2 linked regions of the Homo sapiens genome follow. The protein of the gene in region 2 purifies or fractionates together with the protein of the main gene of each other region. This does not show direct contact. Each region holds a gene or a part of one and is shown on either strand. Other genes may lie near its edges.

Evidence for each region.
Region 1: the proteins of PPP6R1 (region 2) and ARHGEF2 purify together in Homo sapiens (affinity purification with western blotting; 2 studies listed by BioGRID and IntAct, with this or other methods). This does not show direct contact.

The regions. Positions count from the first base shown.
Region 1 is NC_000001.11:155,950,719-155,954,621, forward strand, and holds part of ARHGEF2 (rho guanine nucleotide exchange factor 2), read right to left. Parts: intron 2,111-3,903; coding exon 1,910-2,110; intron 1,518-1,909; coding exon 1,398-1,517; intron 1,269-1,397; coding exon 1,201-1,268; intron 1,059-1,200; coding exon 1,023-1,058; intron 816-1,022; coding exon 765-815; intron 619-764; exon of another isoform or gene 555-618; coding exon 111-554; intron 1-110. UniProt on the Homo sapiens protein: Activates Rho-GTPases by promoting the exchange of GDP for GTP.
Region 2 is NC_000019.10:55,252,415-55,256,317, reverse strand, and holds part of PPP6R1 (serine/threonine-protein phosphatase 6 regulatory subunit 1), read left to right. Parts: intron 1-544; exon of another isoform or gene 545-643; intron 644-2,726; exon of another isoform or gene 2,727-2,889; coding exon of another isoform or gene 2,890-2,892; intron 2,893-3,903. UniProt on the Homo sapiens protein: Regulatory subunit of protein phosphatase 6 (PP6). May function as a scaffolding PP6 subunit. Involved in the PP6-mediated dephosphorylation of NFKBIE opposing its degradation in response to TNF-alpha.

The sequences.
Region 1 (3,903 bases), on a different chromosome or scaffold from region 2:
TCAGTTGACTGATTGCATTTGGGCTCAAATCCCCAATGGCCCAATTTCTTTCGGGCTCCATGGACCCTTATGTCCACCCCAGGTCCATTCACCACTGCAGGCCACCTTACCTGTGGGGGGTTGAAACTCAAGTACAGGGCATCGCCTGCGGGGAGGCTGCGCCGCCGAGGATCCACAGGTCTGCGGGCCCAGGGGGCCTCAGCTGGGAGTGGCTCGGTCTGGCCCAGGGCGGCCAGCTGCCTTCGAGCCTCTTCGGCCTCACGCTCCAGCAGTGCCCGGGCCTGCTCACTCTCCCGGAGCCGGGCCTCCAGGCTGCCAGCTTCGGTTGCCCGTTCTTCACCTAGCCGCCGGCAGCGCCGTAGCTCCTCCTGCAGCAGCGCATGTTGCCGCTGCAGTAATGCCAGTTCCGTGGCCTGCTTTTCAGGGGCCACAGGGGCAGCCCCAGCCCTGCCAGCCTCCCCATCCCGAGAGTTGGCTCGGCACAGCTTCTCCCGCCGCTCAGGGCCCTCAGGGAACCGGGCTTCCATCAGAGTGTCCTGCTGGGCCACAGCTGCCTGGGAGTAGAATGCAGGCAGAAGGGTTTATCAGAACCCCTGTGCTCTTCTACCCCTCGCCTTCACCCTCCAAGGCCCAGATCATCGCTCCTGGAGAGCTTGGATTGGGAGGGTATTTAGAAAGGCCTGTTGGGATGACCATGCCCCACCTAAACAGGCATCTCTAGCCTGGCTCCTCCCCTTCCCCATTCAAGCCCTTGTCCTACTGACCTGTAGGCCATGTAGAAGTCCATAGAGATTGACCAATCGCTGTAACGCCTCCTGAGGACAGACAGGGTGGGAACAGGGCCCCAGCTTTAGGATGGGAGAACTGCCCAAAAGTTGAACAAGGGTGGGTGTGGGGACAGTAGGATCCGGAGACATACTTGAATGTAGACGCTTTCCCCACCCCACTCCAAACTGGGCTCTAACTACTCAGACTAAGAACATCCTCCCTTCAGTCTCCTATACCATCAATTCCCATCTCACCTCTTGCGGTGATCTCAGCTGATTTCCATTTCGATCCTGCAGAAATGGGCAAGAATGGGGAGTCAGCAGGCACACAAATCCTGGGTGCCTGCCCCTGACAGCTTTGTGTTGAGGATCCAGAGGCTGGCTGTCCCTCTCCCACCCTCTTGCCAAGTCCCAGAACCTCTTGAGGACCTACCCTCTGGCTAGAGTCTGAGTCAGCTCTGCAGAGTTCAATGGAGCCATTGAAGGTTCTGGCCTCACCATCTGTTGAGAAGGAGAAAAGGATGGCTGAGCTCACTTCCCTGGGGCCCTGATACCACTTGATCCCTGGTACCACTCTACTAACTTTGGCCCCTCCCACCTACTACCTTGGTCCCCTGCCCTGGTACTCACTGGCAGTGACCCCAGGACTCGTGTTACCACCGCTGTCTGGTTCCAAGGGCAGGGCTGGCTCTCGGGGTGTCAAGAGCAGTTCCACTCCTGGCCCCACCAGCAGGTCTTTCAGACCCTCCACTGTGGGGAAAGAGGAAGAGGTGAGAACAGGAATGACACAGGACCCTGAGGGGAATGCCATTCACCCCCACATGTGGGACACTTGGGCATCTGGGGGAATGCCCCCTGCACTGGCAGTGGGGTTTCACTCACACAACCACTGATGAGGTAAAGGGCAGTAAATGCCTACGAGGCAGCAGAGTCCATGCAGCATGGACGATATGGAGCAGCAGCAAGGACCACACCTCCTCCCCTGCCTTTCCCAGGAACTGGCCCAGAAGAGGCACTCAGGGCCGTTTATGGTTTATAGGGTTGGCATCCCACTTGTCTGTGTTTGTCCATGTCTAGTCACATGTCCACATTCTGTGACGGTGAGTGCTTGAGCCTGGACTCTTCCCTGGGAGCTCCCTCACCCTCACGGATGGCATCCTGCAGCAGCCGCTCGCCACGAGGGGACTCAAGGGACTCAGAGCGGAAAAGGCCCCTGGGCAGGGTGGGCAGGGCCATCCCACTGCCACCATCCTCTTCGGCCTGGAAATGGGTCATCTCAGCAAACAGCCCGACCTTCTCTCGCAGCAGCTCCACCAGTGCCCGGTCCTTCTGCTGCAACTCCACTGCAGATAAGGAACAAGTGAGGACATGAGAGGACGTAGGGGTATGCAAGAGCGCCAGTAGAGGACAGCCCTAGGGGAGAGGGGTAGGGTGGGGCAGTGTGGCAGACTTAATTTTGTTATTTTGGCATTTATAAAAAAGAAAAAGCTTTCTGTTGGTCAGGTGTAGTGGCTCACACCTGTAATCCCAGCACTTTGGGAGGCCAAGGCAGGTGGATCGCTTGAGGCCAGGAGTTCAAGACCAGCCTGGCTAACATGGCAAAACCCTGTCTCTACTTAAAATACAAAAATTAGCCAGGTGTGGTGGCACGCGCCTGTAGTCCCAGCTACTCAGGAGGCTGAGGCACAAGAATCGCTTGAACCCAGGAGGCAGAGGTTGCAGTGAGGCCGAGATCACACCACTGCACTCCAGCCTGGGCGACACAGCAAGACTCTGTCTCAAAAAAAAAAAAAAAAGATTTGTGGAAGGGGTTGCAGGTTGTCCAACAGTGTTCATTCTTTCCATCTTCCTTTAATGAGAAAATGCATAGAAGTTTCATCTGGGCACACATGGCTGCCCAGTTAACAACTATGTTTTCCAGCCTGACTTGCACGTGACTATATTGCTACATGACTACATTCTGGCCAATGGATATGAGCATCTTCCAGATCTGCTCTTAAAAGAAATGGGTATAGGCTGGGCATGGCAGGTGGATCACTTGAGGCCAGGAGTTCGAGACCAGCCTGGCCAACATGGTGAAACCCTATCTCTACTAAAAATACAAAAATTAGCCAGGAGTGGTGGTGGATGCCTGTAATCCCAGCTCCTTGGGAGGCTGAGGCAGGAGAATCACTTGAACGTGGGAGATGGAGGTTGCAGTGAGTCGAGATCACGCCACGCCACTGCACTCCACCCTGGGCGACAGAGCAAGACCCTGTCTCAAAAAAAAAAAAAAAAAAAAGAAAGAAAGAAAAAGAAAAAAGGGTATAAACTCTATTCCTTTACTCCTCCTTGCTAGGTGTGATACAGGTGTGACAGTGGGAGCTGGAGTAGCCACTTCAGACATGACATAGAGATGAAAACTTCATGTTAAAGATGGCAGAGCTGCACCACTACTCTGCACTTCCCACTTTGAACTGTTATGTTGACAGCAATAATATTCTACCTTGTTGGGGTTTTTTTTGTTGTTGTTGTTACCCAGACTGGAGTGCAGTGGTGCAATTATAGTGTATTACAGCCTTGAACTCCTGGGCTCAAACAATCCGCCCACCTCAGCCTCCCGAGTAGCCAGGACTACAGGTGTGTACCATCATGCCTAGCTATTTTTTTTTTTTTAATTTTTTGTAGAGACAGGGTCTTGCTATGTATGTTTTGTTGCCCAGACTGGTCTCGAACTCCTGACCTCAAGAGATCCTCCTGTCTCCCAAATCCTTCTGGGATTAAAGGCGTGAGCCACTGCATCCAGCCAATCTACTTCTTTTTTTTTTTTTTTTTTTGAGATGGAGTCTCCCTCTGTTGCCCAGGCTGGAGTGCAGTGGCGTGATCTCAGCTCACTGCAAGCTCCGCCTCCCAGGTTCATGCCATTCTCCTACCTCACTCTCCTGAGTAGCTGGGACTACAGGCACCCGCCACCACCCCCGACTAATTTTTTTTTTGTATTTTTTAGTAGAGACGGGGTTTCACCGTGTTAGCCAGGATGGTCTCAATCTCCTGACCTCGTGATCCGCCCACCTCGGCCTCCCAAAGTGCTGGGATTACAGGCGTGAGCCACCGCGCCCGGCCAATCTACTTCCTTTTTTAAGGAAGAAGATTTTTG
Region 2 (3,903 bases):
GAACCGTCCAGCCCAAATGTTAGCAGCGCAGAGGAGGAGAACTTTGCTCCACTGCTGGGGTATGGTGTGTCGTTGTGGCTTATTTGCTCTGTTGTGACTCATGAGCTGTGAGTTGGTGAGTTGTGTATTGCGAGTCACCACCATCTTTGTGGCCATTAGCTTTTGTTGGTTCATCTACTGTTTCTTTCCATTAGAGGAGAACCTGCTTGTCTGGTCCCCCTGCCCATTTTTTTTCTTTTGTGGGATGTGTGGCCCAGTGCTCTTAACAGAACACCTTTCTCTGGCTTCAGTTTTCATTAATTCAACAAGTAGCTTTAGTTGGGCCTGGCCTTATGCTAGATCCTGGGAAGTCGGCATGTTTCAGGGGGAGGCAGATGACTGAACAGGTACATCCTGTCACAGAGCCGAGGCTCACATGCTGTTCCAGGGTGACTGCGGGATGCTGTGGAAGCGGCGTGGAGCAGGCCTCTAACACAGATGCGGGGGGGAGGCTCCCTGGAGGAAGTGGTGTCTGTGTGGGGGCCTGAAGGACCCAGGAGGAGCTAGTCAGACTCGAAGAGCTCCGGGAAGGAGGAGGGAGCAGCCCAGCCCCGGCTGAGGGCAGTCAGGTGTGACGCCCACGCGGGAGGTAGCAAGAGATGAGGTGAGAGAGGCCTGAGAGCTTTGGTGAGAGTGAGGGGCCTTGCCAGAGTGGGAATCACTCGGCACCCGGCTTGATGGGGCTCACCTGCCTTTCCATGCCAAACCGTGGTTTTCCCTTTGCACACCAGTTTTGTGGGTCCTTCTCCAGAGAGTGCTGCCTTATAGTAACCCCATCTGTGAGGTATTTCCCGGATAAGGAAACTGGGGCTCGGTGGGGTGAGATCCTTGGTCTAGGCCACAGAGATTTCAGTTTGGGGAGGTCAAATGGGAATGCAAGCTTTTCTGACTTTGGATCACACTGTAACCCTAACTCTGCCCCTTTCTGTTTTTCCAAAGAGCTATTTCAAATCCGTTCATTGGTCTTTTCCTTTCTTTCCTTTAAACCTGTGGCCAGTTCAGGAGACGATTTGAATGTGGATGTTCAAGTCCCCGTCCCAGTCCTTGGCCAGTGTTTCTAGACTCTTCTGTTTCCTAGTTATTCCATCCTCTGGGGTTGGACCAGGGCTGCTAGCTCCCTTGGGAGGGTGTGCTTCTGGGGCCAGAGGGGGAGGCACTGAGGGTTCTCTTTAAGTGGGGACCCTCCCCAAGGCTTTCCCAAGCCACAGGAAAGCCCTAGCTCATCATCTTGTTGGGCCTTGGGCCGCTCCCCCTTCTCCTCTGGCCCCAGTGGCCCTTTCTATCAAATTGGTGTCCCTGGTTCCTCCTTGCTGGGTGGGTGATGCCGGATTCTGCAGCCGGCACACACCGTAGGTCCTGCCCAGAGGTGGTGGGGTTGCCATTACTGTCACTGCATCCCTGGAATTGGGTGTTCCCAGCCCCCTTTCAGATTTGGCTGAGAGCTGACAGAGGCTTGGGGGACATTAGAGGGAGATGGTCTTGCTGTCCTCCGGACTCTGGGCCCTTTAAGGAGCTGGGTGCTGGCCAGCCTGCTGCTGGTAGCAGGCTCTTTCCCTTCCTAGGGTACCGGCCAGGGGGCCAGGCGTTGGAGCTTCTGCTGAGCATTGGGACAGCTCAGGCAGCTGTTTCTGGAGGCCCCCTGAGGCATCTGTGCCCATGACCTCCATTTCTGGGTGCTCGTGGGTCAGCGCAGGTTGGGAAGGGGTGACAGATGAAGCATGGGCCCACCGGTTCCCTGGCGGCAGAGCTGTGCTTGGGCGGATACGTGCAGCAGTGGGGATGGCTCTGTGGGAGCCGCAGTTAGTGCCTGTCCAAGCAGGGGAAGGAAGGGGCTGGCAGGCCCTTGAGGGGTGGCTGGTGTTGAAGGCCCTAAAACACCACAGCTAAGTCAGAAACCAGAGGCAATAGTGCAGAGCTGGTGGAGGGAGAGCGGCAGAGGTAGTTTTCGTTTTTAATGGCTTCCTTTCTCATTTACAATTTCCCCTTCTTCCGTTTGCAGCCAGACTCATGGTTTTCAAACGGTAGCTAAAAACTAGTGGTAGTCACTTCCGCTTTCTTGAAGTTGCTAAAAGTTGCAAAGAATGGGGGTGGCGGGGTGCATGGCGCCTGCCGTAGTATCCGAATGGTCTGAGGAAAAGTACTTGAGTCACTTAGGCAAATGGGTAGAGTCTTTCTCCTGCTCCTCTGTGTTTAGCACCATCACCTTTGGGGTAGTGACCGGTCCCCTACCTGTCCTGCCAGAAAGCATCTGGACGTGGCCTCAGGGTTGGACCGGAAGAGACTTGCACCTGCTGAGCTCCTGCTGTGTCACGGCCACCTGCTTTAGCTCAATGCCTTTTCACAGCAGCCCGCCCTGGTGGGCTGTGTCTCCTTTTCACGGATGAGGAAATGAGACTCAGAGAAATCAAGCGCCTGCCCAGGTTCACCAGGAGAGTGCGAGTGAAACCCACTCTCCTGCTCCATTCGCAGGGATTCTAGCAGGCTTCATTAGGTTGGGAGAGGGGACTGAGAGGGCTTCAGGCCATAGTGCATTCAGAGGTTGTGGTGGGGGAAAGTTTTTTTCTCTTTTTTTCTGTTCTTCCATATTTGCATCTTCATTCTGTTTAGAGCCTGATAATTGAGGTCTGTAGAGTGTCGACCACTCAATTGCATTTGAGCCTTTCAGTCTATTCTGATTTTCAGAGGAGCCACTTGAGATGGAGAGTTCAGGGCGCTGCCTGGGTTCTCAGGGCCGAAGTTCTTGGATGCCGTGCACCAGCGAGCACCCTCCCGTCTCATTCTGGCTGCCCCTGCCCCAGTTGTCTGGGGAGCTCGGTTTGGAGGGGAAGCCTGACCTTTTCCCCGAAGCAGATGGTTAGTCTGTACCAGGGGTAGGGGGTTTGGGGGCCGAGGGCCATGCCTGTGCCCTTTAATCAGGTATCTTAGAAGTGAACGGTGGGCCTCAGTGTGAGAATTTCTGCCTGTTGTTTAGAGACCAGGGCACACTGGAAGCCTCTTGCTAGCCATGTGGCTCCACCCCTCTGGGCCCCTCTTCCACATGAGACTCTGTCGGAATAATAAGAATTCTTTACTTGGTCTTGATGTGGAGCCGAGACAAGTGTCTCTGCAAGTGCGGGTCCATGGATTTTCTACAGATGCTGGCTTGGTGCTGCTCCTATCCCGTCCCCACTGTGGAGGGGCTCACTTAGCTTAGAGCTGTTGGTGGTGAGGGATGGGGAAGGGGTAACCTGGGTGAGTGCCCCAGGGCTGAGCCTTGGCAGCTTCAGCTCTGCCAGGCTGGCCGGCATCTCATCAGCTCTGCGGACGCTGGGACATAGTGCAAGGCCTGAGCCTGGCCCTGGCTCTGTCCCTGCCATGGCCGATGGCCTGAGGCAGGTTTTTTTTTTTCCCCCAACAGTTTTTATTGAGATATTCTGTACAGTTCATCCATTTAGAGTGTACAGCCAGGCGCAGTGGCTCACGCCTGTAAGCCCAGCACTTTGGGAGGCCGAGGCAGGCAGATCACTTGAGGTCAGGCATTCAAGACCAGCCTGGCCAACGTGGTGAAACCCCGTCTGTACTAAAAAAATGCAAAAATTAGGCCGGGCGTGGTGATTCATGCCTGTAATCCCAGTGCTTTGGGAGGCCCAGGCAGGCGGATCACAAGGTCAGTAGTTCGAGACCAGCCTGGCCAATATGGTGAAACCCCGTCTTTACTAAAAAAACACACACAAAAATTAGCTGGGTGTGGTGGCGCACTCCTGTAATCCCAGGTACTCAGGCTGAGGTGGGAGAATTGCTTAAAACCGGGAGGCGGAGATTGCAGTGAGCCGAGATCGCGCCGCTGCACTCCAGCCTGGGTGACAGAGCGAAACTCTGTCTCAA